Linked DNA regions of Homo sapiens. The protein of the gene in region 6 purifies or fractionates together with the protein of the main gene of each other region. This does not show direct contact. Each region holds a gene or a part of one and is shown on either strand. Other genes may lie near its edges.

What was found.
Region 1: the proteins of NUP88 (region 6) and AAK1 purify together in Homo sapiens (affinity purification with mass spectrometry, with the first as the bait; one large-scale study listed by BioGRID). This does not show direct contact.
Region 2: the proteins of NUP88 (region 6) and DICER1 purify together in Homo sapiens (co-immunoprecipitation; one large-scale study listed by IntAct). This does not show direct contact.
Region 3: the proteins of NUP88 (region 6) and STK38L purify together in Homo sapiens (pull-down; one large-scale study listed by IntAct). This does not show direct contact.
Region 4: the proteins of NUP88 (region 6) and SEC24B purify together in Homo sapiens (affinity purification with mass spectrometry, with the first as the bait; one large-scale study listed by BioGRID). This does not show direct contact.
Region 5: the proteins of NUP88 (region 6) and TRIM62 purify together in Homo sapiens (affinity purification with mass spectrometry; 2 studies listed by BioGRID and IntAct, with this or other methods). This does not show direct contact.
Region 7: the proteins of NUP88 (region 6) and PDZD9 purify together in Homo sapiens (affinity purification with mass spectrometry, with the first as the bait; one large-scale study listed by BioGRID). This does not show direct contact.

What each region holds. Positions count from the first base shown.
Region 1 is NC_000002.12:69,514,417-69,518,828, forward strand, and holds part of AAK1 (AP2-associated protein kinase 1), read right to left. Parts: intron 2,631-4,412; exon of another isoform or gene 2,335-2,630; intron 334-2,334; coding exon 55-333; intron 1-54.
Region 2 is NC_000014.9:95,102,030-95,105,529, forward strand, and holds part of DICER1 (endoribonuclease Dicer), read right to left. Parts: intron 3,218-3,500; coding exon 3,042-3,217; intron 2,098-3,041; coding exon 1,317-2,097; intron 1-1,316. UniProt on the Homo sapiens protein: Double-stranded RNA (dsRNA) endoribonuclease playing a central role in short dsRNA-mediated post-transcriptional gene silencing.
Region 3 is NC_000012.12:27,250,156-27,254,567, reverse strand, and holds part of STK38L (serine/threonine-protein kinase 38-like), read right to left. Parts: intron 1-4,412. UniProt on the Homo sapiens protein: Involved in the regulation of structural processes in differentiating and mature neuronal cells.
Region 4 is NC_000004.12:109,432,274-109,437,135, reverse strand, and holds the start of SEC24B (protein transport protein Sec24B), read right to left. Parts: upstream 3,322-4,862; 5' UTR 3,267-3,321; coding exon 3,134-3,266; intron 1-3,133. UniProt on the Homo sapiens protein: Component of the coat protein complex II (COPII) which promotes the formation of transport vesicles from the endoplasmic reticulum (ER).
Region 5 is NC_000001.11:33,164,540-33,168,951, forward strand, and holds part of TRIM62 (E3 ubiquitin-protein ligase TRIM62), read right to left. Parts: intron 2,257-4,412; exon of another isoform or gene 1,028-2,256; coding exon 932-1,027; exon of another isoform or gene 1-931. UniProt on the Homo sapiens protein: E3 ubiquitin ligase that plays a role in antifungal immunity by mediating 'Lys-27'-linked ubiquitination of CARD9 downstream of C-type lectin receptors; leading to CARD9 activation, followed by activation of NF-kappa-B and MAP kinase p38 pathways.
Region 6 is NC_000017.11:5,402,329-5,406,740, forward strand, and holds part of NUP88 (nuclear pore complex protein Nup88), read right to left. Parts: intron 2,916-4,412; coding exon 2,729-2,915; intron 1,919-2,728; coding exon 1,771-1,918; intron 1-1,770. UniProt on the Homo sapiens protein: Component of nuclear pore complex.
Region 7 is NC_000016.10:21,987,166-21,991,577, reverse strand, and holds part of PDZD9 (PDZ domain-containing protein 9), read left to right. Parts: intron 1-2,786; coding exon 2,787-2,976; intron 2,977-4,412.

The DNA.
Region 1 (4,412 bases), on a different chromosome or scaffold from region 6:
CTCGCTGCACATTCCTCTGCTGCTTTTGTGCTCTGAGCTCTGGTTGATTCTTACCGCTGGCTCCTGGGCAGGGGCTGGCTGTGGGGCTGCAGCTGGCTGTGGCTGGGGCTGCTGTCCTGCTGCCATAGTGGGCTTTTGCTGCAAGGCAGCCTGCTGAGTCATCAGCTGTTGTTGATGCAGGGCTGTGGCCAGCTGTTGCTGTTGCTGTTGTTGTTGCTGCTGCTGCTGCTGCTGGTAGAAATTCTGCATTAGCTGCTGTTGAGAGCCTCCTTGGGACACCACAGGGAACTGAGCAATTGCTGGTTTCTGGGTTGCTGGATGTACTGCCTGAAACTGAGCAAGAAATGAGGAGATGAATAAGGGCCTGTCCCAGAATAATAGTCACAAAAGACAAATGTCTCAAAAACAATGAAGACCAGTGCTAAAGCCAAAGGCAAGGGCAAGTAGAAAAGTCTTGAGGCTAGGCCTAAAATCTCATGATAGAGACCTCAGGGAATTAAAATACAACACAGCAGCAGTCCCTTACACTGCTAGGCTCCATCCATTGCACCAGGCTGCCTCCTGCACTACAGACTGGCCTTCCAAGTGGGTTTCTGGGCCTTGCCTAAGGGAAGCTATCTGACTAAACATCATGTGACTCCATAAGCTAGAGTATAGCAGGAGCTAATAAACGATCTCCTAATCATAGAGGTAATCCTTCTTATAAAGGGATTTGAAGTAGCCAAGATTAAAATGCTTCCCTACCTGAACAGGATGAAGCAATGATGACACTGAAAAGAATAACCTAAATGTTAACTCAACTATTAAGACTCATCTCAAGTCTTACTAAAAATTATTTCCCAAGAGCTCCATTTTTATTAAACTTCCTTAAACATTCAAAATAGCCAGTGTGCTCTATGACGCTTCCTTTTGTTTGTTTGTTTGAGATAGTGTCTTGCTGTGTTGCCCAGGCTGGGATGTAGTGGTGCAAGCAATCTCGGCTCACTGCACCCTTGACCTCCTGGGCTCAAGTGATCATTCCACCTCAGCCTCCTAAGTACCTGGTATCACAGGTGCACACTACCATGCCTGGCTAATTTTTTTTCTTATTTTTTGTAGAGACACAGTCTCACAATGTTGCCCAGGCTGTCTCGACCTCCTGGGCTCAAGCAATCCTCCCGCTTCGGCCTCTGAAGATGCTGAGATTACAAGCATGAGCCACTGTATCTGGCCCACACTTCTTATATGTCTCTCTAATCCCCACTGTTAGGGGCTATGTGCTACATACACAAACAGAGCTCAAAATAAGGGCCTGCTGATGAACTAAGGTCAACACTGTATCTTTGAACATCCCGTATACTTTACGTAGTTATTAGAGTCAATTGGGAGGATACTGTTTGTCTACTGGGGCAAAGTTAAAGGGTTAACAAATTAGAAGATGTCAAAAAAAAAAAATAGCTGCCTACTTATAACAGCAAAATACTGGAAACAACCCAAATGTCTATCAACAGGAGACTGGCTGATTAAATATTTATGATAGATATATCCTGAAGGAAATATCTAATAGAATACTCTCAAGTTGTAAATAAGAATGAGCAATACCACTATATATGGGTTGGTGGGGATGGACTTTTGCAGATTTAACTCTGAAACTATGTAAATGTTTCACATATCCACAAAACAGAATTAAACTAAAATTTAAAAAGCAATAACTAAAAATCAAAAGCAAAACAATGCATATAAACCGGTGTATCAAATTGGTAGCTGAACGCGCCAGAAAATAATGTGCTAAACATTCTAAGGGTAAAATGGGCAAGGAAATCTTAAACTGTTTTCAGTAATCATATGGTTATTGCTATCTTAAAACGATAGAACAATTAATTATCTATGTTAATGCTGTTAAGAATCAAGATTTCCAGAAAAAAAAAAAAACAACAAAATCCAAGAAGTTAAACAGAAATCCAGTAATTACAAATCCAAATTAGGAATATAAATCCGAATTCATAATGCCTATTCTCCAACAAAACAAAACAAAATATATTTTCTAATTGTCCACTGAGAAGGCCTAGAAACAACAAGCAATCCATTAGGCAAATGGTATTTCTAGCATCAAAACTGTGGTTTCTAAACATTATTTGCACTAAAAAGAAACAGAGCTCCTAAGAAAAATGGATGATTTCAAGTTGAGGGCAGCATGATCCTAGAGGGCAGCATGATCCTAGATAGCAAGGAAATCATTAAAGACCACTGGAGTTACATTCAAAGGATTTAGGAGCCAATTTGAAGAGACTTCCACTGGCCAAAGTTGGGGCAATCTGAGCTTTAAAATAAATACATTTTTTAAAACTGCAATATGCCAGGCATGGTGGTGTGCACCTGTAGTCCCAGCTACTCGGAAGGCTGAGGCGGGAGGATCGCTTGAGCCCAGGAAGTCAAGGGTTGTAGTATGCTATGCTAGTTGGGTGTCTGCACTAAGGTCAGCATCAGTATGAGGACCTCCCGGGAGCAGGGGACCAGTAGCCTAAGGAGGGTTGAACCAGCGCAGATTAGAAACGGAGCAGGTCAAAACTCCAGGGCTGATTAGTAGTGGGATCCTGCTTGTGAATAGCCACTGCACTCCAGCCTGGGCAACACAGCAAGGCCCCACCTCTAGTAAAAACAAAACAAAAAAAGCAATGTATTCAAAGATATCAAATATGTTAAAATCTAAGAATTCCTAATGATACTAACTAAACTAAACAAAACAAAAACGTCACTGTTCACCTTTGGATGACAAGAGGGAACAAATTTATTACTCTGAAAACCAGTAAACAAAAGGAAAGAATCAAGTGTTTTTCCTGCCTTTTCTGTACAAACAGTACCTCAGGGTAGCTAAAGAGCTGATGAAAAAATTTCTTCATGGAAAACGTCCAGCCCTCAAATGAAGAGGGAATGTTAGAATATCACTGTGCCATCCCTGATGAATTAAGGAACTTGGCAAATGATCAGTGATACCTGCTAAGCTAATGGGGAACATTAAACAAATGGATCAGACAGACAACACCTCAATACACCGATTGATCTTTTTTTCTTCCTTTTTTTAAAAATATTTTTGGGAAACGCAGTCTTCAGGGAAATCTGAAAGTACACGCTCCCTGATCTTAATATCAGTGAAATAGAGGCCAGAGAGACATTACAGACCTCCTGACATGATGCAACAGGAAGAACAAAGAATTGTCAAACTGAATCAAATACTGAGTAAGCCTCGAGAAATTACCAGTGTACACGGAAGACGGTCAGACACATCAAATGACACCATAGCATGCAATCAGCTAAACCCAGAATGCCAAAAATTCCAAGGGACAAATAATCCAGTTTCTCCGAAAAATTAAATGACAAAAAGCAAAAAAAAAAAAAAAAAGAGGAGAGGGAACCTATGGATAAAAGGGGACTTAAAAGATATATCAGCCAGCAGCCGCATAGGCTAATGTGTGTAATTCCGATGATTTGGGAGGCTGAGGTGGGAGGATGGCTTGAGGCCGGGAGTTTGAGACCAGCCTGGGCAAAATAACGAGACCCCCATTTCTACCAATAAAAATTAGCCAGGCATGGTGGCACATGCTTATAGTCCTAGCTACTTGAGAGACTCAGCTGGGATGATCACTTGAGCCCAGGAACTGGAGGCTGCAGTGAGCTATAACTGCACCACTTCACTCCAGCCTGGGAAACAGAGCAAGACCATACCTCCAAAAAAACAGATATACTCATCATTATAAAATGAATACATTCATAGTAAAAAATGTGAAAAAAATATATGAAAAGATAATGGAAAACAATATAGACCAACTAAATACAATCTGTTAGTATTGGATACTGATTCAAACAAGCCAACTTAATTATGAGATATCAGAAACAGTTAAACACTAATGGATATTTGATAATAAGAAACTATTGTTATTTTTTCCTCTCTTATGATAATGGTGTTACAGTTGTATTAGAAAAAAGAAGAAAAAAAAGCAGTCCTTAAAAAAAAATAGTTTTTTTTTTTTTTTTTTTTTTTTTGAGACAGAGTCTTGCTCTTGTTGCCCAGGCTGGAGTGCAATGGCACGATCTCGGCTCACTGAACCTCTGCCTCCTGGGTTCAAGCGATTCTTCTGCCTCAGCTTCCCAAGTAGCTGGGACGACAGGCTTGCGCCACCATGCCCAGCTAATTTTTGTATTTTTAGTAGAGACAGGGTTTCACCATGTTGGCCAGGATGGTCTCGATCTCTTGACCTCGTGATCCACCTGTCTCGGCCTCCCAAAGTGCTGGGATTACAGGCGCGAGCCACTGCACCCGGCCAAAAAAATAGCTCTTGTACTGATGTTCCTCAATCAGATGACAGATTCCTCATGGCCTGAGTAAAAGGGTGAAAGGGGTGTGAGTGATGGATCCGCTTCTCAATGCTTTAGTA
Region 2 (3,500 bases), on a different chromosome or scaffold from region 6:
AAAATAAAAGTTTCTACCTCTCAGAATTATAAAAATTAAATTAGGTTTATATGCATATATGTGTATATATGTGGGTGTGTGTACGTGTGTGTGCGTATACGGTTATCTTTTAGAGTAGTGCAGAGTAAGCACTTTTAAATTGTTAGCTAAAATTATTTCTTCTGAAATTCTCACTCACCTCAGCCCCTTCCTCTCTACCAGAACTCTAGTTCTATCCCATTCTCTGCTTCTGCTGTTGGTTTGGATATGCTTTTCAACTCACACTACATTCTGCTACCAGATTAATCATTTTAAACTACCACTTTATTAACATTAATAGTTCCTTGCTCTAAATTCCTTCAACAGTGCCTACAACATTCAAAACACGTGCAAACTCCTTAGCCCAGCATTCAAGGCCTTCCACGATACAGCTTCACCCCAGCTGCCTTTTCAAGCCTTTTCTCAGGTATTTCCACACTTCTGACTGCTGCCACGGCTGCTTCCCTGACGCTGACATGCTCTGCCATCTGTTCACTTTGCTTATGCACTGTCAACTTGCCTCCTCCATTAATGCCATCCTTGATTCAACAGTGATGCTCCTTCCTTCTGAGTGCTGCAAGTGATCAGCAGCTTTCTAAGGTATTTGTCCAGGAGGCTCATGTTGCCTTGTGAGACTTTTTTCCATTTTTCCCCCATAACTTGAATATCTTACCTTCATTCCTTTTCTTAAGTCTTAGTCCATGCTGAGTTTAAGAGCCCGCCCTTTCTCTGAGCTATCGAGCGTTAATTACTCAGAACTCTGGTGTCACCCTCTTCACACTGGAGAGCAGCCAAGCTCTGTGAAGCTTGTTACTCTTCTCCGCTCCACTCTCCAAAACTTTGGAGATGAGCTCCTCCACAAGACTTGTGTCTTACTCATGTCTGTATGCCTTGTAAGCCAAGACGTACCCTCTCAAATAAATGTTTAACTCAACAAAGCAGAAGCTCCTTGACTGACTACAATGCACATTTCTTCATATCCCCCTCAGGATCAAGGGGTGTACACACTTGCATAGCTTCCTTTGAACTGACTTTCAATCAAAAAGTAAGGCACGTGGAGATCAGCTAAGCCCCAAAACCTGAGTGTGGGATTGGTGTAAAGCAATACTCATCAACTGCCAGGTAGTTCTGCCACAGGCTTTCGCTGGCCCTGGTAGAACAAGGGAGCAGCTGTGCTTGGCCGGTGTAGCAATTTCTGAGCATGATACGTTCTCATCCTCTGAGATTATCCAACACTGCAAACCACTTTCAGGCACACTGAATAATTAACTGCTCAAAATAAAAAAATCATCTCTTACCTTTTTGCTTCTCATATATGAAAGGCGGCCCTCATGCGCATCAGGGTAAGTGCAAAATAGATATGTGGTGATGGCATGCTTTAAAAAGGAGTCGCCAAGCATTTCAAGCCGCTCCAGGTTAAATCCATCACTAGCGTTTGACAGAGTCAAAGCCTGAAGAATAAGTCCAGGATTGGGGCCAAGAGTCCTTGAGGAGTACCCAATAGAAGGGCTCTGCTCAGAATCCATCCTGCCCTTGAGCACTTGAATAGTGTCTGTCGTACCAGGCATTACGGCCATCACAGGACTTCCATCTGAGGTAGATTTGTTAGCATTTCCATCAAGGTATTTATTACTCAGGAGAGTACATTCATCGCTGGGCTGGGGCTGGTTCTCGTAACTGTATAAATTCTGAATGGAATATGAGGTAGTTGGTTGCACGGGTATTTCCTGCTTGTAGTAATTTAGCTGATTTCCTTGGCAAAAGTCTCTGTTAGCTAAATCATAACTGCCATTGGCGAGATTTTGATTGTAAGAAAGACCATTAATTGCTGTAAGATCTGCTGAAACTTCAACGTGGAGCTTACCAGGGGACTCGCTGAGCAACGTTCTGCAGTTCACAGACATTTGGTCATGATTTTCTAGAGAGGAGGTTCTATTAGCACCTTGATGTGCAGCATTTTCAGGGACAATTGTGCTGTGCTTACAGTAATTATCATTTTCAGCTGAAGAGGAGTTAGAAATTGAGATGAAAGATTTGCTGTCAATAGATTTTTTCCACCCGAAGTCTAAGTTAGGGTATCTGCAAAGACATTTTTATAACTTTACATCAGATTCTTCAAAACAGCTAGGCTGAGAGCAACAGCAATTTGAATTTAAAAACAAAAACAAAGATCCCAAAAATGTACTCCTAAACTTTAGAATAGAAGCAAGTTTCCAAATTTTTAATTTACAGTGTAAATTATAAAGTGGGACATGGTTTTATCTACTGCTTTAATCCCTGGCCCTAGACTCTAGGTGTGGTAGTTAAGAAGGTCACGAAGCTTGCAGGCATCCTGCAGGACCTGGGGCCTAGCTTCACGGGTTGGAATCCCAGGCACTCTGGTTAACCCGCTGAGTAACTCTGGGCAACTTACATAAACTCTCTGTGCCTCAGCTTCTGCACCTGAGAAAAGGGCTAACAATTCCTATCTCATAGCACTGTCTTAATGATTAAATGAGCTAACTAACACAGGGTACAGCATTTAAGCTAGTGTTTGGCACTATAGCAACTAACCAATAAATATTGTGGTTATTCCTATTATATTTTAAAATTCCTTCAATCCCTAGAACAGTCTTGATATTGCCAATTGGATAACCAGAACTAATGTGAGTGTTTAAGCCAACAGTTTCTTTAGAATGCAGAGATTTTACTAATGGGAAGAAAATAATGAAGACAAAGAACATGCTAAGGCTATTGCTTTTTAACATATATTTGGATTTTTAAAAGAAAAAACAGACTGAAAATGCTGATGCAGTAACAAAGAACAATTTCATTCTCACTCCAACTGTTATGGCTTAAGCAGTAATGGTTATTTCTGACCTCAGATTCTCATCTCCCTCTGAGACTTGACAAGACATAAGATATCCATTATTTTCTTTTTACTCTTTTAAGAATTATTTTATATACAATTTTAACTTAATTCTGTTCTTTTGCAAACAGGATCTCATGATCTGTGTTCTTTCTGGCTGACTGCACAGGCATACCTAAAATCCGCAGGAAGTGATCTGACTCCCACGCCAGCATCGCTGGCAGTCTGGGCTCTTAGCTCCTCTGCAGTCAAAAGGCAGTGAAGGCGATAAAGTATGCTGGGGAGACAAACAGCTTTTCTCCACAGTGATGCTGGAATTGGATGTATAGCACAGAGTTCTGGAACCAGTATCTTCAAGTAAGGGGAAAAATGGACAGATAAATACAAAGCGCACACACAAAAGAAAAAAAAAAAGACCAATTTCACTAATGGATAAAGAAAATCATAAATGCTAGTAAAACTTAATTTTAAAAAATATTTGTAAAAATAATCCTCTAAGGCCAAATGGGATTTATCAAAGGATTTATGAGAATGATTTTGTGATATATTAATGGGCCAAGTATAAAAACAAAACTCTCAATACTTACCAAAAAGAACATTCAAATAACATTCAACACATAATACTAATTAAAAC
Region 3 (4,412 bases), on a different chromosome or scaffold from region 6:
AAAGGACAGAAAAAAAAATAACCACTGTAGAAAGTAAATCTATGTAAAAAAGAAATCTGTAGTGCTTTTTATCTCTAGCAATCTAACGTAGATTATACATACAAAGTTTATAATAACGATTTGCACATACAGGTCTCTGAATGACCAAACAAGGATAGAGGAGGACCAGAGATGATGTTTGACACCATCTGAAGTTTAGGGTCATGTTAGTTATTAAACTGTGTTATTTTTAAAAAATAATAAGGCTTAGAGTAGAGAGGAGAAAAGAATCAAGGCTAGAACTAGAATAAAAGGACTTCATTATTAGGTATTACAGTCTTGGGAAATGTTTAAGAGTTCCATAAAACCCTATGGGAAAGGTAAATAATCATGTTCCTACCACAATCCCCTCCCTCAAGTCAGGTGCTCTTGAAGCTGTGCTTTGATGCAGCATTCTCTTTATACAACAACCTCGGTGGTTCTAGGCTTCATCAAAGAAAAGGATTTTAGTGGATTTACTTTTCTCTTTATCTCTCTGGCTGATGGTATCTTTACTTTTTCTGTTTAATTTCACAAAATGGAAGCAAGAGACAATTTATCACCAGCACTGCACTCCAGGTTGGGAGTGAGAAGCACAGAAGAGGTGCTTCCAAGAGGCTACTAGAGGCAACAGAAACACTTTCTTACAAAAGCTCAGAGTGCTAAAGCTGGATAAACATAAATAGACAGCAAATAAAAGTTCATTGCTCCTGTCCAGCATCACGGCAACAATTCCGGTTCCTGTGGCCCCCTAATATGCTTCGTGTCTTACATCACTATGTGATAATACCCGCCTGAGGCTTCTCGGCCTGAAACACTCCTCCTCACCCTTCAAGTCTAAGCTCAAACACTCACACATCCTTGGAAAGCTTCTCTCACTATCCCAAGTAGGTGCCCCTCTCCCTTAGGTGTGCCTCTCACTGCTCTTTCATGACAGCTGCTATGCCTGATTGCAGCTATTTCTACCCCTGTGAATGTAGCTCTCCAGTCACCTGCCCAGCTTCTGAGGGAGCACCATGTCTTTCCCTTTCCATATCTCCTGGCACACGGTATGTACTTTATGTACAATTCACAGTGAAAGAACTGCCTAGGTTCTTTCACTAGAGAGACCCATCCATGCAAGTCTCTCCTTCCCAATCTCACCTAGTTTAGAACTTCATTATTATCACCTAGATTATTTGTCTCTTCACTGGTCTTCCCATTTCTGGACTCTCTTTCCTTGAATTCACTCCATATACACTACTGCCACTTACAACTCTAAGTAATTAATGTACCAAGTTGAACAGGTGGTGAAGTAGAGAATGAAAAGCTGGAAAACATCAATTCTCTAAGTTCAAAGGGTTCAAATCCAACAGAGCAGAAAGAGAAGTAGATAATTAACAGAACTTACCAGGTGCTGTACAGATACACCCAATTTATGCTAATCCCTCTGCGTGGCATGTCCTTCACTCTGAAATGCTCAATTCATATTTCACTTCATATAGGAAGCTTTCCTAATCTCTACAGCCAGAAGCAATCTCTCTTTCCTCTGCTCCCACAGTACCCTGTTACTCCGTTGTCACTTTCTGTTTGAATTACAGTCATTTGTACCCATACATTATACCTCTTACTGGACTGAACTTTTCTAAATGGAGGGCCAAACATCTATTTGTCTCTATTTTGCCATGGTACCTAACACAGTGCCCTGCAAATAGCTGATAAATAATGAATTATGATGATTAACCTCACTAAAATATTATGAGTCTGTGATTCCTTTAGGATTTGCCAGTATCAAGAATATCAATGGGTCATATACATGCAATTCAGTACTAAAATTTTCCACTCTAGCCACAAAAATAGAAAAAGTCTATTCTGTTTGTCTAGATAAGAGTCGACATATGGAGAACATCCTCAACCAGATCTGAAAATGTTCAAATGAAATGGATCGCTGTTGTGAAAAACACAACAAAGGGCAACTCCCTAGTACTACAATAAACTGAGCAACCAGCCTCTGCTGCCAAATACAGAAAAGTCGTAAGGGGCAAACACGGTGTGGTATTTCCACAATGGGAGCAGGTCAGTGGGTAGACACTTAACTAAGTAAAAATGAACACTGCTAGTAAAAATTAATTTAATAAAACAGACACTAGTACAAGATAGTATGTCAAAAATGGATCATTGAATAAGCTGTCTGAGCTCTCAAACATTATCACTTTCCAGAAGTGAATACTACTTGCAGCTTATCCATTCTTTTAAGGATCATATTCAATTTTCTACAAAAGTGCTTTTGTAGGCCGGGCATGGTGGCTCATGCCTGTAATCCCAGCACTTTGGGAGGCCGAGGCAGGCGGATCACGAGGTCAGGAGATTGAGACCATCCTGGCTAACACGGTGAAACCCCATCTCTACTAAAAATACAAAAAATTAGCCAGGTGTGGTGGCAGGCACCTGTAGTCCCAGCTACTCGGGAGGCTGAGGCAGGAGAATGGCGTGAACCCGGGAGGCAGAGCTTGCAGTGAGCTGAGATCGCGCCACTGCACTCCAGCCTGGGTGACACAGCGAGACTCCGTCTCAAAAAAAAAAGTGCTACTGTAAGATACCTCAGCAAGCCCTTGTTAGGATTCCCAATTCCTTAATTTCACTGTTTATGTCTGTCCTCCCTTCACCCTATTCCTTTATCATAATTGTTTTAGTTAGAATGTAAGCAATTGAGTGCACAATGAGATAGACAATAACTTAAGAATTAAGGACTTTAACATTTCATGATTTAAAATGCAGAACTAAAATTCCAGGTTCTCAATTCTCACAAAACAAAACAAAGCTCAAGGCTTAAAACTTTAGAAAATGCCATGCTATAATGATATTTACCCACTCCTAATTGGCTTAAATGAAGTCAGAACATTTGATTATATCATTTATTTCAGCACTGTAATTGCTAAGGGCAAAAACCTTGTCTCATCAACTAATTTTGTAGAGGCCTTAGTGAACGATTTGCTTGTAGCAGCTTTTACTCTACAAGGAAGACCAGTGTGTTAAATAAAGTGTTTATATTAGAGTCGAAAGACCTAAGTTTAAATTCAGGCTCTGTCTCTTATTTTGAGATCTCAGACAAGTCACTTTAATCTGAGTTCCTCTCTTTACCTGAAAATAGGTGTAATAGCCATAACCCTCACTGCCTAGACCACATGACTGCTATGAGGATTAAGTAAGGAAATGTGTAAAAACGCTTCATAAAACTATAAAGTGTAATACAAATATAAGGGCTCCTGGTATTATTCTTAAAATAAGTGCTAAGAGTAAATCCCTGTCTATAAGAAATCAGAATACAATTGAATTATTTCTGCATACTTTTCCCAAGAGAATTTATGTCTGACATGCAAAACTGTAAATAACTCCTAAAGGGGAAATTACCAAAAAAGGAAGGGAAAAAAGAGAAGAAAGAAAACTTGGGGTGGGACTAGAAGAGGGAGGTAAATTAAAGAGAAAAGGAGAAGTTTTTGTAGTAAAATAATGCAATGTAAGAGAGAGCAAACCTGATCTGAAGAAGCAATTTCTTTTTTTTTTTTTTTTTTTTGAGACAGAGTCTCACTGTCACCCAGGCTGGGCTACAGTGAAGTGGTCTCAGCTCACTGCAAGCTCCACCTCCCGGGTTGACGCCATTCTCCTGCCTCAGCCTCCTGAGCAGCTGGGACTACAGGTGCCCGCCACCACGCCCGGCTATTTTTTTTATTTTTAGTAGAGACGAGGTTTGGCCATGTTAGCCAGGATGGTCTCAATCTCCTGACCTCGTGATCTGCCCACCTCGGCCTCCCAAAGTGCTGGGATTACAGGCGTGAGTCACCGCGCCCGGCCTGAAGGAGCAATTTCTAACTCTACCACTTACTATCTACCTGTGTGTCCCTGGGCAAGTCACTTCACCTCTCTAAGCTCCAATTTCCTCATTTGTAGGTAGAGATAATAACTCACAAGATTGCTATAAGGATTAAATGAGATAATATATATAAAGTACTTAGCACTATGTCTGGTGCATAGTAAGGGATAAGTGGTTACTGGCATTGATAAAATTATCAGACCTGTGCCCTAATGGGTGACATTCAGAAAGAAAAAGGAATCAAGAACATTTAAGAGGGAAAGATGATGTTCAGGGAGCTAAATCTATATATTACCACTGGGAGACAAACTTTGAGAAATATAAATTACACAAAGTATGCTTCATATTAAATGTTCAGATTACTTACTGTGTCTCTTGAATTGGTGAGGAATCAAGAGAAATGCAGTCAAAATCTCCAGATCATAAAAGCAGAATAGCAATAACCGTATTCATAAAAGCAGAATAGCAATAACCGTATTCATAAAAGCAGAATAGCAATGGGAGAACTTGGCCCCCTGAAAAGTAGGCATTAATGTGTGCAGAA
Region 4 (4,862 bases), on a different chromosome or scaffold from region 6:
CTCGGATCCCACAGATTAAGGGTTCAGTCCCACAAGATGGCTCCCCACTTCAGATGCCTATCATAAGTATCACAAGTAGCAGGTTGCCATCTGTACTTCTGAGGAACCAGTTACAAACTGGAGTTTCTACTACCCCCTCCTTAGGTTCAATTACTTTGGTAGAAGGGCTTGTGGAAGTCAGGAAAACATTTAAATTTATTGTTTATTATAAAGGATATTACAAAGGATACAGATGAACAGCCAAATGAAAGAGATGTACAGGGCAAAGGATGGGGGCAGGTGCCGCCACCCTCCCAGCATCTCCACATGTTCAGCAACCCAGAAGGTCACCAAATCTTACTGTTCCAGAGTTTTTATAAAGCTTCATCTCCAGCCTATCCACTCCCCTTCAAAGGGGATGATGGGTGGGGACTCAAAGTCCCAACTCTCTAATTACTTGGTCTTTCTGGTTACCAGCTCCAGCCTGAGGCTGTCTAGGAGACCCATCCTAAGTCATCTCATTAGCACAAACTCAAATGTGATCAAAAGACTCCTTATGAGTAGCAAGCGACACTCCTATCACTCAGGAAATTACAAGGGTTTTAGGAGCTGTTACAGGAACCCAGGACAAAGGCCAAACGTATTTCATATCACACCACAACACTGAAGTGAGTGATTTCTAGGTACCATTCCAGTTTTACAATTCTGTCTGTTTTATGCTCATATTTCTGACCTATTTCTTTTTCACCATGTCTGGAATTCCATAGAGATATATTAAAAGGCTAACTACTTTTGTAGGACTGAAAAATAAATGAGAAACCCAAATGACTGCTTACTACATGCTGATACCACGTAGCAAACTTTTTTTTTTTGAGATTAGCAAACAAAACAAAAAGAGATTTAATCTTGTTTCTCTACTTAAACTAATCCCTTCCACAAAAACAAAAATCCTTCTGGAGGATAAGGTGTGAGGATCACCTGAGCCCAGCAGACCAGCCTGGGCAACACAGGGAGACCTCGTACTCTACCTGACCCTAGTTCTTACACTTTACCATAACTTTCAAATTTCCTAGCATAACATTTAAGGCCTTTCTGCAACCTGACCCCTTTTAACCTGCTCCTTTCGGCTTCGATGCCTTGGCTTCCCATGCCACCCAGCACCCTCTGCACCTCTTGACTCCTTCCACTTTCCAAGCATGCCCTGCACTTTCATATTTCCAAACTTTAGTTCATGCTGTAACCTCTGCCTAGAGTCAACCTTTCCCTCCCACCCCAACCTGTCGAGTCCCTCAAGGCTAGCCAGAACCAATTCAAACATTACCAAATACAGGGCAAGTCAGGAGAGAGGCAGGGACTCTGTCTCATCTGCTACCCTAACCTTGAGTCCCCAACTGGTAAGCATGCAATAAATGTTGAAATGATTATTGCAACATTAAAGGAAAGTAGTGATTATAAACAAGAGAACTCAAGCATCATCTATATTTGGCATCAAAACATTGATTTGTTCTTACAGATTTTAACATCCTGATTACACTTGGCTGAGTACATATCCTGGCATTCTTGAGTGTTCACAAAATTTATAAGGCTGTAATAAACATTTGCCACTTTAAAAACTGTTCACTAAGATGATAATGCATATTCAGAAAATCAAGGAAAGACACAATCCTTGAATCACTGGTAAACATGAGTCTACAATGTTCTAAAAGACTTGGGCTCTTTTACTAAATTATCGTGTTCTAGTTCCTTCATAAAGCTATTTTAAAAACAAACAAAAACAAGAACTTATATTAAGGTTACAAGAACAAACACTGCTCACAAATAGTATTTTTACATTTGTTCAGAACAGGTTTATATCCAAAAGCGATTATAGTAAACAATGACTACTGAGAGTACAGCATGTAATACTGATAGGTAAGGCTGATCCAAAGAATATTAAGGCTAAAGTATCACTCAACTTCTGATCCTCAGGACAAACGATACACTTCATGTTTGAAAAGCATCAGTTGTAAAACTTAGATGTTGATTAAACTAATTCATAAAGTCCAGCAGATTTTCATTAGGAAATTAGATAAAACAGGTCAATCATCTGGAGAGTACTAATGCAGTTTGGTTCTCGTACCAACACAGGACAGAGGTATTTTTCTAAATTCAGTCAATTACTTTCCAAGGTTCTCATCTGACATACTAAGAAGTCTGTAAGGAGAATTCCTCCACCCTTGGCCCCTATCCGCGAACATTCCAAATCTCAGCATTAGGGAATGCATATCCATCATTTTGCAGCCTACTAAAAGCCCACGACCTTAATATGAAAGCGGCTTTCGTGCTGCATTTGGCTGCTGCCTGTATGAAGGCCCTGCCTCAAAGCAGGGCCAACTCTGGCACGTTTTTTCATCTCTGAAAGTGGAGCTAGGAAAAACACCCAGATCTAAAGATGTTCGTTTAAATCCGTTTACATCTGCTCCCTTTCAAACACTACAAGCAAACTCCAAAAGCTTGAGCAGCAGCCGCAGCGGCAATGACAGTTCTTGAGGCCGAACTGGGTCAGGGTTACAGTTACACTTATATAGCATATTTACACCCTTTTGTCTACAAACTTGAGTGCAAACTTAAGTTTCCTCAAGGCAGCGTGTTCGCTGGGCCTCGGGAACCGAAGCAATTTTCCTGAGACAGGAAGGGCACAATCCACCCTGCTGGGTGGCTGCACCAGCCTTCTCCGGACCACGCACTCAGCGGCCTCGGCTTCTGGCCAGCTCTCGCAGCCAAGGGGTCGCTCGGGGCAACTCGCCCGCGTCCAGGCTAGGTAACTGGGTTTTACTACGTGGGCTCCCAGCTTTTCAGTCGCCCCTACTCGCCCGAGGCCGTTTCGGGCCTGGGGTCGCATTACATAAACAGCCACGGCCCCAGCTTTCCCAGGCCGGCCCCCGCCCCCACGCCAGGGGCGTCCCACCCCCGCGCGCCCCGCGCCGTGCCTTCCCTGCCCCCTACCCGCACCCAACCCGGACCCCGCGGCCTCCGCACCGCGCCCGCTCCCGTCCCTCGGGCCGGGCCTGGCCCCGAACGCCCTTCCCGGCCCGGCCCGCCCCGCCCCGATGTGGCCGTGCAGGCCGCCCAGCCGGTGCTAGGCCCCGCGCTCCGCCCGGGCCGCCCGCCTCACCGTTCTGCTGGTGCGGCGCCGGGCCCGCACCCGGGCCCGCGGGCGCTGCGGCTCCTGAGACGGCCGCTCCGCCGAACTTGGGCGGGATCCGGGCGCTGGCGGCCGGGTGAGAGGACCCGGCGGGGGCCGACATGACGGCGCTGGTGGCGACGGCGGCTCCGCTTCAGGGAGGTGGGCGGAGGGAAGGGAAGGCGGGGCCGGAGAGGAGAGAGGAAGAGGAAGGAACGCGCCTGGCGTCACTGAGGGTGTCACCCGGGACCGCGGCTCAGGTACCCAAGCTTCTCCGCGAGTCCAGCGCTGCCACTCGGCGGCCGCCGCGGGCGCGGGGATCCTGGGTCGCTCCGCCTTGACCCACGCGCCCCACGCCCCGGGACTTACACCTGGGGTCGCTCCCCGCACGCGCGGGCCTCGCGCCGGTGCCGCCGCAGCGCCCCCTGCAGGCCGGAGCCGAGCTGGCCCAGGCCTGAGTCTGGCCCGGGGTTCCGTGGCCCCAGTGCCGGCCCCGCGGCTGCTGCTCCGGCCCGGCCAGGTGCCTTCGTGTTGAGGCGAAAGGACTGGGCCTCAGTGGGTGAAGGGACCGGGTGGCCCGCTTCCACCTAGGGCAGAGGCTGGATCGGCCGCGGCGAGGCTGGGCCCAGCATTACTGGGAGGGGAACTTGAGAGCCGCGGGTTGATGTTCGGAGCTCAGGCGACGACTGACCACCCACCCTTCCTCGAAGAGGAACAATGGCTTGGGTTTGGTTTTTAATTTTTGATTCCCCCACCTCCCCTTTCTTGATTCCAAAGGAAATATAGCATTCAAGCGCCATGTCTGTTGGGAATATATAATTCCTTGGCAAAGAAAGAGGAAACATTTCTCTGATAAACACAAGAATCTCAGTAAGAATTGCATTATTGAGAACTTTTCCCACTGATAAAGTAGGGAAGAGGAAGGGGAAAATAGGGTAAGGGAATGCTGGAAGACAAACTTTAAACTTTATCTCCTTTTTTTTTTTTTTTTTTGTCGATTGTTGGTGCATCCTGTTGGTGTTCCGAGAAGTTGTGGCTCAGCTTGCTTTGTCTACATTAGTGGAATCTTTAAGTCTTTCTGGTCTGTCTCAGCATACTCACTGGCAGGCCCTAGACTACATTACCCAAGTCATTTTGCCGTCTTGGAATCCTGAGTATGTCATCACTCTGTATTGGAGATGAGATTGCTCAGAAACACTGAATTCAGAATGGGATCTAGCAAGATGGTATTTCTGGAGCAATAAGTCATTTACTGAATGATTATGCAAAGCATAAATTGCATTGTAGTCCTAGAATAATACAAAGCTTCCCTTTAGTTGTTGCCGTAAATTAATAACTGGCATTTTAATGCACTAAATGAATTTTAGTAGTTAGATTTATATCTTTGACTTCTAGGAATTTCAACTACATTAGAGTTCATATACACAAAAGGGGCAAGCCCTTTTCCACAGCATTTCCAGCTTCTCCACAGAAACCTAGCCCCACATGAGCAAAAGATCACACTCTGTGCTTCATCAAAGAGATTACACAATTACAGATTCCAGCATCTCCCAGGAGTCCTTTGAATTTGGATTAAGGTCTATAATTACGTGGGTAAGGGAATAACTAGGTAATTGGCTTTCTGCACCTGGAATGTATTCTCCTGGGTATAAGAGGCTCCTTTTAATCAGAAGTATATGGGATGAAAGTGAACCCTGTCTCTTAAGGGGAGACTCCTTAA
Region 5 (4,412 bases), on a different chromosome or scaffold from region 6:
GTGGTGGGATCAGAACCCATGTCCTTCTCAAGTCAGTGGAAAAGTCTGTTTGTTTGTTTGTTTGTTTGTTTCCCAAACCACGGTAGCCAGAGACTGCAGAGTTTGGCCCTACCTTTCAGAGTCTGTATCCCATGGCCTGAGCTTAAGGGGAGATGATACCAGGGCTGGGCCACCTCTGGAGGGCTTCGAGGGGACATGCTCAGGATTGACTCCTAGGCAATGGGCTTATTCATTCATTCATTCATTCATTCATTTTAGAGACAGGGTATCACTCTGTCACCCAGGCTGGAGTGCAGTGGCATGATCATGGCCTACTGCAGCCTCAAACTCCTGGGCTCAGGCAATCTTCCCATCTGTCTCAGTCTCCAGAGTAGCTGGGACTACAGGCATGTGCCACTACGCCTGGCTATATTCAATTTTTTTTTTTTTTTTTGTAGAGAAGGCATCTCGTTATATTGGCCAGGCTGGTCTCAAACTCCTGGGCTCAAGCCATCATCTTGCCTCGGCCTCTGAAGAGACTGGGACTACAAGTGTGTGTCACAACACCAGGGTTGGGCGGTTTTAATAAGGGGAGAGGAGAAAGAGACTGAGCACATTCCCCAGCCCTTCAGGAGGCAGGGGGTTTCCGGAGGGTCCCGGGACCCGCCTCAACTTCCACCCAAAGTGGGAAGGGAGAAATGGCCCCGTCCTTAACCGAGGGACCAGCCCACATCCTTGCCGCCAGTCATGATGGGGTGGGTGCCGCCCCATTGAACTTCACGGATGCCCTACCCTCTTCCCCACCCTGCCCTTCTCACTCCAGGTTTGGCTCCTTGAAGCCAGGTTTCCACCGCACACCCGAGGCCCCGCCCCTCTTCCCCAGCTGGCCCCGCCCCTCGAAGCCCTGCCCTCATCTCTGCCGGCCCCACCTCCGCGCCCCGGCCAGGCTCACCTTGGTCTCCGCCAGTTGTCGCTTGAGCAGCTGCAGCGCTTCGGTGTGTTCCCGCTCGCTGTCTTGAAGGGCCTGAAGTTGGTCCTTCAGCTCCCTCTGAAACACACACAGGGCCGGGATGGGGGCAGGGGCCATGCCTGGCCCAGGCATTCAGCCCTGACCACTGCCAGGCGCTGGGGGTTAGCCTGGTCTCTGTCCCCAACCTCCAACACTTGCCTCCCGTCACAGTTCAACCACCAGCAAGTCCTGTAGAGTCTGTCTCCTAAACACCTCCAGAACCCGTCCGTATCTTTCACCTGCATCTTTGCAACAACCTCCTCCTCTTTGGCCACCCTAGAGGCTTCTGTGACAATCGACTTCCACATACACACTCTCTGGCTCCCCACACTTGGCCCTGGATCCCCGCTTAGAATTAAGGCAGGGGTCTCCAACCCCCAGGCCACAGGTGGGTATTGGTCCATAGCTTGTTAGGAACCTGGACGCACAGCAGGAGATGAACAGTGGTGGGGAGGGGCAAACCATCTGTATTTGCAGCCGCTCCTCATCGCTGGCATTACCACCTGACTCCACCTCCTGTTGGATCAGTGGTGGCATTAGATTCTCACAGGAGTGTGAACTGCACATGGGAGGGATCTAGGTTGCCTGCTCCTTATGAGAATCTAATGCCTGATGATCACTCACTGTCTTCCATCACCCCCAGATGGGACTGTCTAGCTGCGGAAAAACAAGCTCAGGGCTCCCACTGATCCTACATCATGTTGAGTTGTGTAATTATTCCATTATATATTACAATGAAATAATAATAGAAATAAAGTGCACAATAAATGTAATGTGCTTGAATCATCCTGAAACCATCACCCCACCCCCACCCCCTGCGGTTTGTGGAAAAATTGTCTTCCATGAAGCTGGTCCCTGGTGCTAAAAAGGTTGGGGACCACTGCTCTAAGGAACCAAAGCTGTACCAGTCCAATGCTACAGACTAGCTGCCAACATTCTCCGAGGGCTACAGTGGGCTGGGCACAGTTCTTAGCTCTTTGCTTATATTAAATCATTTGGGCCTCTCAGTAACCCTAAGGGAGGCACAATTATTATCTCCATCTTCTGATGGAGAAAAAGATACAGAGAGGTCAAGAAACTGGCCCCATAGCATACAGATAAACATATAATGGTAAAGAAGGAATTGGAACCCGGACAGCCTGGTTGTGGAGACCATGATCTTGATGCCAGGTGACACGTTTTCTACCATGATGACTCCTGCGATGAATAACAACAAATCCACAACACACAAGATATCAAAATTTTAAATAAAAACACAATCAGCCTCACTGATTTTTCCTTTGTCTCAGGTTCCAGTGTGGCTCAGCAGAGCATTGTTAGTGATCCTGGCCTTGTTTGAAATGTTGAATTTTGTTCATCGTGGGTTTTTTGCATTAATTTTGATTTAAGAAATATTGCATTAAATACTATTCATCTTGATTGCTGAGTTTGGGGCACCCTCTGATCCCACCTCTGTCTCCAACACCCTCCCCCATCACTCCCATCCAGCCAGTGGCCTTCTTCCTGTGCCTCCACCATCTTGAGCTCGTTCCAATCTTCAGACTATGCCCTGGCTATTCCCTCTGGCTGGTGGCCTCCACTCTCAGAGTTTCTCACGGTGACTCCTTTGTACCATTAATTTAACTCAGATGCCACCTCCTTGAAGAGTCTTGCCTGACCGCCCCACGCACAGTGGCACCTCCTCATACCCTGTCACACATCTGGATTCACGGTCTTCCTTGCGCCTTCTGCTGTCTGAATATATTTGACTGTGTGTTTATTGCTTATCTCCTCACTAGAATGTGAGTTTCATGAGAGTAGTAGGAATCTTGTCTGGCTTGTTCCCTGCCTTATGCCCAGGGACTCAGTGATTATTTGTCAAGTGATAAATGGGTTGTGGAGGTGAGTGCTCCCTAGCACAGGGTCCAGCTGTCTGCAGGCATTGGGAATCTAGCCCATTGTATTATCGCCAGTTGTTCTCCTGTCTGTCTCTTCTTCGTCCCCGTATTGGCCCACAAGTCCTCCAGGGTGGCTCCTACTGCTCCCTCTCCATATACCTCACACCCAGCAACAGCCTGGCACTGAGATGGGACTCAATGACGCTTGCTGCGTGAATGAAGTTCCTGGAAATGGCCTCTGAGTTCCCCAAGTCAGTCTGGGCTGTGAGCAGTGCCAGGAAGGCTGACTTACCTGTTCACATCCACCTCCCTCCCACTCATTCAGCTTGTCAGACCAGGGAGGGCCTTGGTAAATGTCTAGTTCAATTAATTTTACAGACTAGGCAGCAACATGGGAAAATATTCATGATGACATGCTGATGGAAGAATGCAGGAAACAAAATTATCTTTGATTACTATCAATTATTCATTTAAAAAACATTTCTTGGGCAACTATTATGTACCAGGCACTGTTGAGGCACTGGGATTATGGCGAAGGACAAGACAGACACAGTCCCTGATCATAGGGACTAGTCTGGTGGGGAAGACAGACAACAAACAAGGAAAATAATAAAGGAGCGAGGTTACCAATATGGTGTGTCCTGCAGAGAAAATAAAGCAGTGTGAGATGGAGGGGACTTTAGGTAGGGTGGCCAGGGAAGGCTTCTCTGAGGAGGTGACAGCAGAAGGATGAGGAGGAGCCAGCCATGAAAATGGGGGTAAGATAGAAAAATACAAGCTGCTTGTTTTGAGAGCCCATGCTGATGCAATTGTTGGAACTCTGGCAGCCATCTCAGGCCATGAGGCAACTGTAAAGACCAAAGTCACAAGCTGAAACCAGAAGAGTAGAAGGAAGAAGGAGCCCGAGTCCCTGATGACTGTGGGGCTGCCACACCATCGGTTTACTCAGTGACATGCTAGGAAGCTGGCTGTCTGAGAAAAACTTTTTTTTTTAAATCCCCAACAGTGCCAATTTCCATGGTGTAAATGTTCCCACTCAAGTGGATTTCAAGCCATCAGTGTGAAGTAGTAGTTGGACTTGGCATTGGGATGAGATGCACACAATCAGCTCTCAGGAGCCAGTGCAACCTGCCGCAGCACACCCACCTGGAGTCCTTTCCTAGAGACTTGTCTTACATGAGAGAGAAACGCACCCCATCTGACTGCAGCTACTTCAGCCAGGGCTCTGTTACTAACAGCTGAAAGTCATTCCTAACATTCGTGTGCAGCTTGAGCGGATACAGTCCTCGGAGCAGAGGAATCTTGTTTGCCTAAGAGAGTAGAAAGACCGCTCCTCAGGTGCCTCTGACAGCCTTGGGCTATCCAGCCTGGGACACAGTGTGGCTGAGAGGCAGATGTTGAGGAGATGGGCCAAGTGCTACAATTCTCCCCCTGGTGGCCCCCATGGGTCCACAGAAGACCCAGCCACCCAGGCAGCTCTTCAGGATTTCTGAGAAACTGCCTTGGAGTCTGCCTTCCTCACATTGCTCAGGGCACTTGAGAAACCT
Region 6 (4,412 bases):
AATACAAAAAACAAAACCCAAGAACAAAACGTCCACGTCTACACTTAAGATTTCCCAAAGATATACGTATCTATATGAGGAAACCAATTAGTTTATGTCACTTTACTTCATTTGGTCTGTTTCCTCATCTATAAAATTCTTAGACAATATAAATCTCAAAATACCTTAATTAGACAAACCCAATGTACACTCTTTGCTGGTTTGTTATGTAAGGAATTCTGCCCCCTTAAATGTTTTGCCTATACTTTAGTACAGAGTTGAGGCCGTTATTACCAGAACTAGGCAAACTGGCTAACAAGAACTGTAAGGAGAGTAGGTCAAACTGCTACAAGATTGAAATCCTCCTATGTTGCAGTGAATGACACGATTTCATTCTTTTTTAAAGCCAAATAGGGCTGGGCATGGTGGTTCACACCTGTGGACCAGCACTTTGAGAGGCTGAGGCAGAAGGATCACTGGAGCTCAGGACTTTCAGCTTGGACGACATGGCAAAATCCCGTATCTACCAAAAATACAAAAATTAGGCGTGGTGGTGCACACCTGTAGTCCCAGCTACTCCAGAGGCTGAGGTGAGAGGATTGCTTGAGCCTGGGAGGCAAAGCAGTGAGCCAAGATCACGCCACTGTACTCCAGCCTAGATGACACAGTGAGATCATATCACACACACACACACAAAAGCCAAATGGTATTCCACTGTGTATACAATGCCACATTTTAAAAATCCATTTGGGGCCAGGTGCGCGGTGGCTCACATCTGTTATCCCAGTACTTCTGGAAGGCCGAGGCAGGTGGACTGCTTGAGGCCAGGAGTTTGAGACCAGCCTGGCCAACATGGTGAAATCCCACCTCTACTAAAAATACAAAAATTGCCAGGCGTAGTGGCTCACGCCTGGAATCCCAGCACTTTGTGAGGTCGAGGTGGGCGGATCACAAGGTCAGGAGTTCGATACCAGCCTGGCCAATATGGTGAGACCCCCGTCTCTACTAAAAATACAAAAATTAGCAGGGCGTGGTGGCACATGCCTGTAGTCCCAGCTACTAGGGAGGCTGAGGCAGAAGAATTGCTTGAACCCAGGAGGCGGAGGTTGCAGTGAGCTGAGATGGTGCCACTGCACTTCAGCCTGGGCAACAGAGCGAGACTCCATCTCAAAATAAATGAATAAATGAAATAAAAATATAAAAATTAGCCAGGCATGGTGGTGGGTACCTGCAATCCAGCTACTTGGGAGGCTGAGGCAAAATAATCGCTTGAACCTGGGAGATGGAGGTTGCAGTGAGTCGAGATTGCGCCATTAGACTCCAGCCTGGGTGACAGAGCCAGACACCATCTCAACAACAACAACAACAACAACAAAATCCATTTGGTCTGTCGATGGACACAGGTTGATTCAGCATCTTAGCTGTTGTGAATAACACTGCAATGGGCATGGGAGTGTAGGTATCCCTTCAACCTATTATTTCCTTTCCTTTTGACATACCCAGTAGTGGAACTACTGAATAACATGGTAGTTCTACTTTTGAAAGGACCAGGAAAAATTCACTATTAGGAATCTGGTGATCTGGACCAAAGACCACTATTTTAAAACTTGGGAAATTTGCTCAGTCTGCCTTAGACAAAAAGTGTACTATAGTGACTAAAAAGCTAAAAAAAACCCAGTCAACTTTTTAAAGGCTGGAACCACAGAACAAATACATTACATAGGAACAGTCTATGATAGTCTTAGTATAAAAATCATGGGAAAAAAGCACTACATTTATTGAAGAGCTTACCTCTATGAAGTTTGACTGGACAAGAAAAGTCAGAATCAAAAGGGTCATCCTCTCCAGATGCCAGTTTCAAAGCAAGCTCCAACTCAACACATTCAAACACATACAGAGAAGGAATGAGGTCAATCCTGGAATCCCAGGACTTTTCTGACTGTAAAAAAAAGTGTTGTAATTTTGATCTTGCATGTTAATTTGAAAATGTACACAATTAAAAACAGGCAAAAAGCTGGGTCAGGGCCGGGTGCGGCTGTTCTTGCCTGTAATCCCAGCACTTTGGGAGGCCGAGGCAGGTGGATCATCTGAGGTCAGGAGTTCGAGACCAGCCTGGCCAACATACTGAAACCCTGTCTCTACTAAAAGTACAAGAAATCAGCCGGGCGTGGTGGTGGGTGCCTGTAATCCCAGCTACTGGGGAGGCTGACGCAAGAGAATCGCTTGAACTCAGGAGGCAGAGGTTGCAGTGAGCCGAGATCACACCATTGCACTCCAGCCTGGGCACCAAGAGCGAAACTCTGTCTCCAAAAAATAATAATAAAAAATAAATAAAAAAATTGAAAAAAAAGCTGGGTCAAACAGTACTTTCAAATTCTTAATTCCACCTCTATCCTAACAGTGCACTGTTATTCTGAAGACAAAACGTCTCTCTTCCTTTAGGAAGATGTTTGTGAAAAAAGCCAATTCAGTGATTCCAAGGCTCTTTGTATCTGTCCCTGAAGATTGCAATATAGAGACCAGAAAGTAACATGCAGACTGGTGGACCAAGTAAGTTGGGCAACCTTCTAACTTCTTTCCACTTAGACTGCTAAGTGTGCTTCAGCTACTTTTTTAACTGTTTAATTTCCAAAATATCAGAAGTTCCATAAGTAAGTTAAAATTCCTTCTCATATATTAAGCATTCATATTGGGTCAGGAACTATGCCAGGTGTTGAAGATACAAACAACCACAGCAGCCTGCACTTACCGTGTGGTCATCTTCTTCTTCCCCTTCTAGCACGACACAGTGATACAGCATTCCTGATTCAGTAGCGATCACTAAGATATTGGGGACACAGGGTAAGCAGAGTACAGCACACGCATCATAACCATAGTTATCTTCAGCCGCAGGATGCATGGGCAATGGACCCAACAGCTTTCCAATATTTCCAGGGCTAAAGAAGGAGTAAAAACATATTTGGGAAATGTTGACAGTATGCATGCTCATCCCATAAAACCATTCTTTGACTTTGTTTTCCTCCAGCTATCATACCTTCATTATAAATGTAGTGTATTCCCAATACTCCATCTTCTCGCTTTCCCACTCAGATCCCACCACTCTGTGTTTCTCAACCAGAGATAATTTTGCCCTAGCGGACAGTGGCAATGTCTGAAGACATTTTGGCTTGTCACAACTGGTTGTCACAATGTGGGGGGAGGTATTAGCATCTAGTGGTTAGAGGCTAGACAGAAGCCGCTAAACATTCCCGCACAGCACAGCACCTCTAAAACAAACAATAATTCAGACCAAAATGTCAATAGTACAAAGGTTGAAAACCCTTGCCCTAAATTTACTATGGTTTATGCTTTCACCACTCCACTGAAGCTACTGTGGCAAAGGTCACCTGTGAGATTTGCTAAATCCAAAATGCACTTAACCTTCTGCTGCATTTATCACTGGTTAACGACTACTGCTACTCAACAGCTGTAACAATTCTTTCTTGTAGTTCTCTCTTCCTACCTCTTTAAACACAATTTTCTAACGTCCTTTTCTAATTTCTGTCTCTTAAATATTGGTGTTCTCCAGGATTCTGTTGTATGCTTTGACTTTTTTCAAAATACACACTTAAATGAGAGCCTGTTAAACTATGCCTCGTTTTAACTACCATCTATATTCAAAGACTACCAAATCCTTTCTTCTAAAATGTAGCTTCTCTTCAAGGCTTTGGATCCCCATATTAAATTTGATTTGACAAATACTTATTATTGAGTGCTAGATGATACTCCCAGTGAATGATGGTTTAGTTGATGAGGCAGACATTTAACCAGAATTACTATACCATGTGATAAGTGCAACAACAGAAGGATTTATGGTGTACAAAGGAATGACAAAAAGATACAAAGATAATGAAGAAAGCTATAAAAAATAAATGAGAAAAATGAGAAAGAATGATTTCTGGGAAGGGGATTGTTGAGCATTCCAAGCTAGAGATCAGTTTATGCAAAGTCCTGGAAACATGAAAGACAAAGAACTAAGAACAAGAAAACTTATTTAGTATGATGGGAGGCAAAGTACAAGGTGGAAGGCAACGGCAAAATAGCTAGACAGACATCCAGGACTGGCTTATGAAGTACACAGTCTTGTGTGCTATGTTAAACTATTTGAAATCTATCTGCCGGGTAACAGTATATCACTAGAGGTTTAAATCAAGCGATGGAGCCTCACTTTACAAATCAGTCTGGTATTAGGGAGGAAGACATGGAAGGGTCCAAAATGGGATTTGGGGAAACTATTTAAGAAAATAAGCCAGGCAGATGGTGAAGTAGGCAGATGATGCAGTTCTGAAGCAGGGACAGAGGAATGCAGAGAAGGGTGTATAATCAGGGGTGTCCAATCTTTTGGCTTCCCTGGGCCACACTGGAACAATTGTTTTGGGCCACACAGAAAATAC
Region 7 (4,412 bases), on a different chromosome or scaffold from region 6:
CCTTAACAGATTCTGACATTCTAAGTCTTGAGAAATTAATGTAGGCCGGGTGCGATAGCACACACCTGGAATCTCAGCACTTTGAGAAGCTGAGGCGGGCAAATTGAGCTCAGGAGTTCGAGACCAGCTGGGGCAACATGACAAAACCCCATTTCAATAAAAAATACAAAAACTAGCCCAACATGGTGGGCATATGCGCTTGCAGTCCCAGCTCCTCCAGGGGCTGAGGCAGGAGGGTTGCTTGAGCCCTGGAGGTCGAGGCTGCAGTGAGCTGTATTTGTATCCCTGCATTCCAGCCTGGGTGACAAAGTGAGACCCTGTCTCAGGAGAAAAAAAAAAAAAGAAATTAATGTAGCTTCAACAGTAAATACAAGTCATGGACTGGCTACTGCCTAAGCAGTTCCTAAAGGCCTGGTGTGTGCAGACACCCAGCTAGGCACTGGGGGTGTAGTGGTGAACGGCACAGACATGGTCCTTAGCCTTGAGGAACTTAAGGAACTTCCAGCCTAGTTGGGAGAGATGAAAAAGATAAAATATTTTTCAGTAGTGGCTTGGCTGCTGCAAAGTTGATTTACTGTAGGTAATCGAGACAAAGTTTATATAATGTCATCCTATAGCCCATTAAAACAGAAAAAAAAAGGTGTAATGAGGTTGGTGTTCATAAGTACGAAATTGGTGTTTCTGTATGAAGGGCAATGTTAATATCTATTGCTAGAGTAATCACATTCACATGCTGACATGTTTGGTTTACAGCCAGAACGGTCAGGAAATTAAGCTGTTTATTTTCTGCCCTCTTGATAAAAGTCACACTTTTACAACATAATTAAGCAGAATGCCAAGCCATAGCTTTCAGCTATAAACACTGCTTTTAACATTAGGTAAGTAAGCTCATCCGGGGAGGGTTTTGTTTTTGTTTTGTTTTGTTTTGTTTTGCCATTGTAATTAACCTCAGTAGGATGAGCAGCTGTTTCATATTGCTCAAGCTGCAGGTAGCCTTGTTTCATTCTGAAGTGAGCTTCAGATACATGGTTGATTGTATTACCCCCAGCTACTGCTTAAGACCAAAGTAGAAGGTTTTTCTCCACCCTTGTAAGTATTTGTTTTCTGGAATTCTGGGAACTTTTGTTTCTGATAGGATCTAGAGCTATGGACATTTGTCCTTGGCATCCTTAGAGGCTTCTTTTGGGATCAGTGTAATTCCTGATTGAAGCCCAGTGCATGCATCAGAGAAGGCACTTCTTGACCCTTTTCTTCTTTGAGGTTAGGCTTCAGCTGTCTTAGAATGAGGCTGATTGAGGGTCTCCAGAAGGTCAGTACTAGTAAGATCTGAAGACTTAAGATTTTGCCCAATGTGAGCTGGTCCTTAAAAAGCAAATCCTTTGTATTCCTTTCTGAAGTCTTGCTGAATGCCGTTGTAGCAGCCAGGGTTCCTCATTGCAAAAAACAGAAAACACTTCTGTTAATGCACTGAATTTGGGATACTGAGTCTGACAGAATCTCCCAAAAGGCTGGAGAAGCAGGCTTGGAAAATGGTGAGAGAACCAAGAGCTGTGTGTAACTACCCCTAGCAACTAGAAGCTCCTGTCACTCTTTTGCATCTCCTCCTCCAGGTTCAGTGACCCAGGTGGGAGTGTCAAGTAGCTGGATCTCACTCACAGGTCCATGACCTAGCTGCTGGAGGTGGGGACATGGGGGAGGTTGGAGCAAGTGAAAAATTGGTCTTTTTAGCTTCCTTCAATTTGGGGGTTTCGGGGGTTAGTGCTCAAGATGTAGTCCTCTTCCCACCTGCCAGGGACTCGGAAGCTGCATGGTTGCCCATCTTGTTTCTTTCCTTATCCTGCGTTGCCCTAAGGTAGGGAAACCTAGCTGTCAAATCCCTTTAAACCAACATACTCACTGCATACACATCTTACAGTTAAAGCATGCCTAATTGCCCAATGTTTTATACAGAATTATTTGCTCAACTAATACTGCACAAGGGTAGAGAATTAAAATGAAAGGCTTTATGTTTAATATGGTCTATTAACTGTGGAGGGCACTGGAAATTGCCAGGCAGGTATAATAGAAAGTAGGTCATTTATTCACCACTTAGTGTAAGTGGTTTTTTCTTTTCTAGTAATAGCCATTCATTTTATCTGAAACTAATCTATTTTTAGAATCCTAACAGCTGGTTCCGATTATAAATGTTTTTTAGCCTCTGTCACACCAAGAACTTCAGAAACGTCTCAAAAACATCATATAATGTCTACCAATATACTGCTATTAAGAAACATCTTGCATACATTCTTCAGTATGCAAAGGACATTCATATCATGGACATGAACATCTTTATTAAATAAAGGCTGGGCCGGGTACGGTGGCTCATGCCTGTAATCCTAGCACTTTGGCAGGCCGAGGTGGACAGATCACCTGAGGTCAGGAGTTTGAGACCAGCCTGGCCAACATGGTGAAACCCCATCTCTACTAAAAAAAAAAAACAAAATTAGCCAGGCTTGATGGCACATGCCCATAATCCTAGCTACTTGGGAGGCTGAGGCAGGAGAACCACTTGAACCTGGGAGGCGGAGCTTGCAGTGAGCTGAGATCATGCCACTGCACTCCAGCATGGGTGACAGTTAGACTTCATCTCAAAAAAAAAAAAAAAAAAAAGGCTGAAGCCTGGTTTTGGTTCAAAAAGAATCAACAATATGAACCCATAAAATGAAATACCTCACAATAAAGCCAGAAATCAATATAGTCCCTTTAAACCTCTAGTTTTACTGATACATAATTTTTTCCCTCTTCAGGTGATGTTCTGATTAGTGTTGGCCATGCCAATGTGTTAGGATATACTCTTCGAGAATTTTTACAGCTTTTGCAACATATCACTATTGGAACAGTGCTACAAATCAAGGTTTACCGAGATTTTATTAACATTCCTGAAGAATGGCAAGAAATATATGATTTAATCCCTGAGGCCAAATTCCCAGTAACAAGGTAAATAGTTCATTTTAGGAACTCTTTGTTATAATACAGAATCCCAGGGCCTGTGAGGCATAGATGGTTTAATGTGACAATTATCAAATGATAAGGATCATGACAGGAGGACTGGTGACACTGTCAGAGTAATTTCCTGGGTTTCTGGTATTAGATCTGTAGGATCTAATATGAGAAAGCACGATGAAGTCAACCTGGAGTTAAAAAACAAGTCATCGGTTGGGAATTTTGTCCCCATGCCTACCTGTATGGTGCCCCTCTTTCCCGAGTCAGCCCTTAAAAATGCTTCTTGTGGGCCAGGTGTGGTGAATCATGCCTGTAATCCCAGCACTTTGGGAGGCTGAGGCGGGTGGATCATGAGGTCACGAAATCGAGACCATCCTGGCCAACATGGTGAAACCCCGTCTCTACTAGTAAATTACAAAAATTAGCTGGATGTGGTGGCGCGTGCCTGTAATTCCAGCTATTCGGGAGGCTGAGGCAGGAGAATCGCTCGAATCAGGGAGTCGGAGGTTGCAGTGAGCCGAGATCGCACCACTGCACTCCAGCCTGGAGATAGAGCGAGACTTTGTCTCAAAAAAAAAAAAAAAAAAAAAAAGTGCTTCTTGCAAATCCTATTTTCTTTTCCGTATTCAACTTTTTGTTCTCTGGGTCCTTCCCAATAACATCTAAGCCTTTTTAAACTTCTCCCATCTTGGCAAATCCTATCTTCAGTCCACTCTCCTCTCCCTACCCTCTTTAGCCACTGGAGTCTTTTGCATCCACTCCCAACTTGCTAAAAGCTGTATTAGACACCTCTGTTTCCTCGAAAGACGCCACTTCCCAGACACTCCTCCACCCACTTCAATCTAGGCTTTGCTTTCATCCCTTGGCTGAGTCCTTTTCCCAGGGCCACCCATAGCCTTCACACTTCTGATCCCACTAGATTCTTCTGTCTTTATCTTGCTTGGCTTCTGAGCAGCATTAGACACTTAACAATTTCCACCCACTCTCTTCTTGAAATAGCACTTCCCAGGCTTCTGTGACACCACACTCCCCTGATTTTCCTGTTACCTCTGGCCATTTCCTCTTGGTGTCCTTTCTCCTAGCCAGTTTCATTGATGCCTGTGGTTTCTATGACTATCCACATGCTAATTACTTTCAAACTGTATTATCACCAAAACTGTATTTTTTTTTTCTTGGAGACGAGGTTTTGCTCTTGTCACCCAGGCTGGAGTGTAGTGGCGTGACCTTGGCTCACTGCAACCTCTGCCTCTCGGGTTCAAGTGATTCTCCTGCCTCAGCCTCCAGGGTAGCTGGGATTACAGGCGCATGCCAACACACCCAGCTAATTTTTGTATTTTTAATAGAGACGAAGTTTCACCACGTTGGCCAGGCTGGTTTCGAACTCCTGACCTCAGGTGATCTGCCTGCCTCGGCCTCTCAAAGTGTTGGAT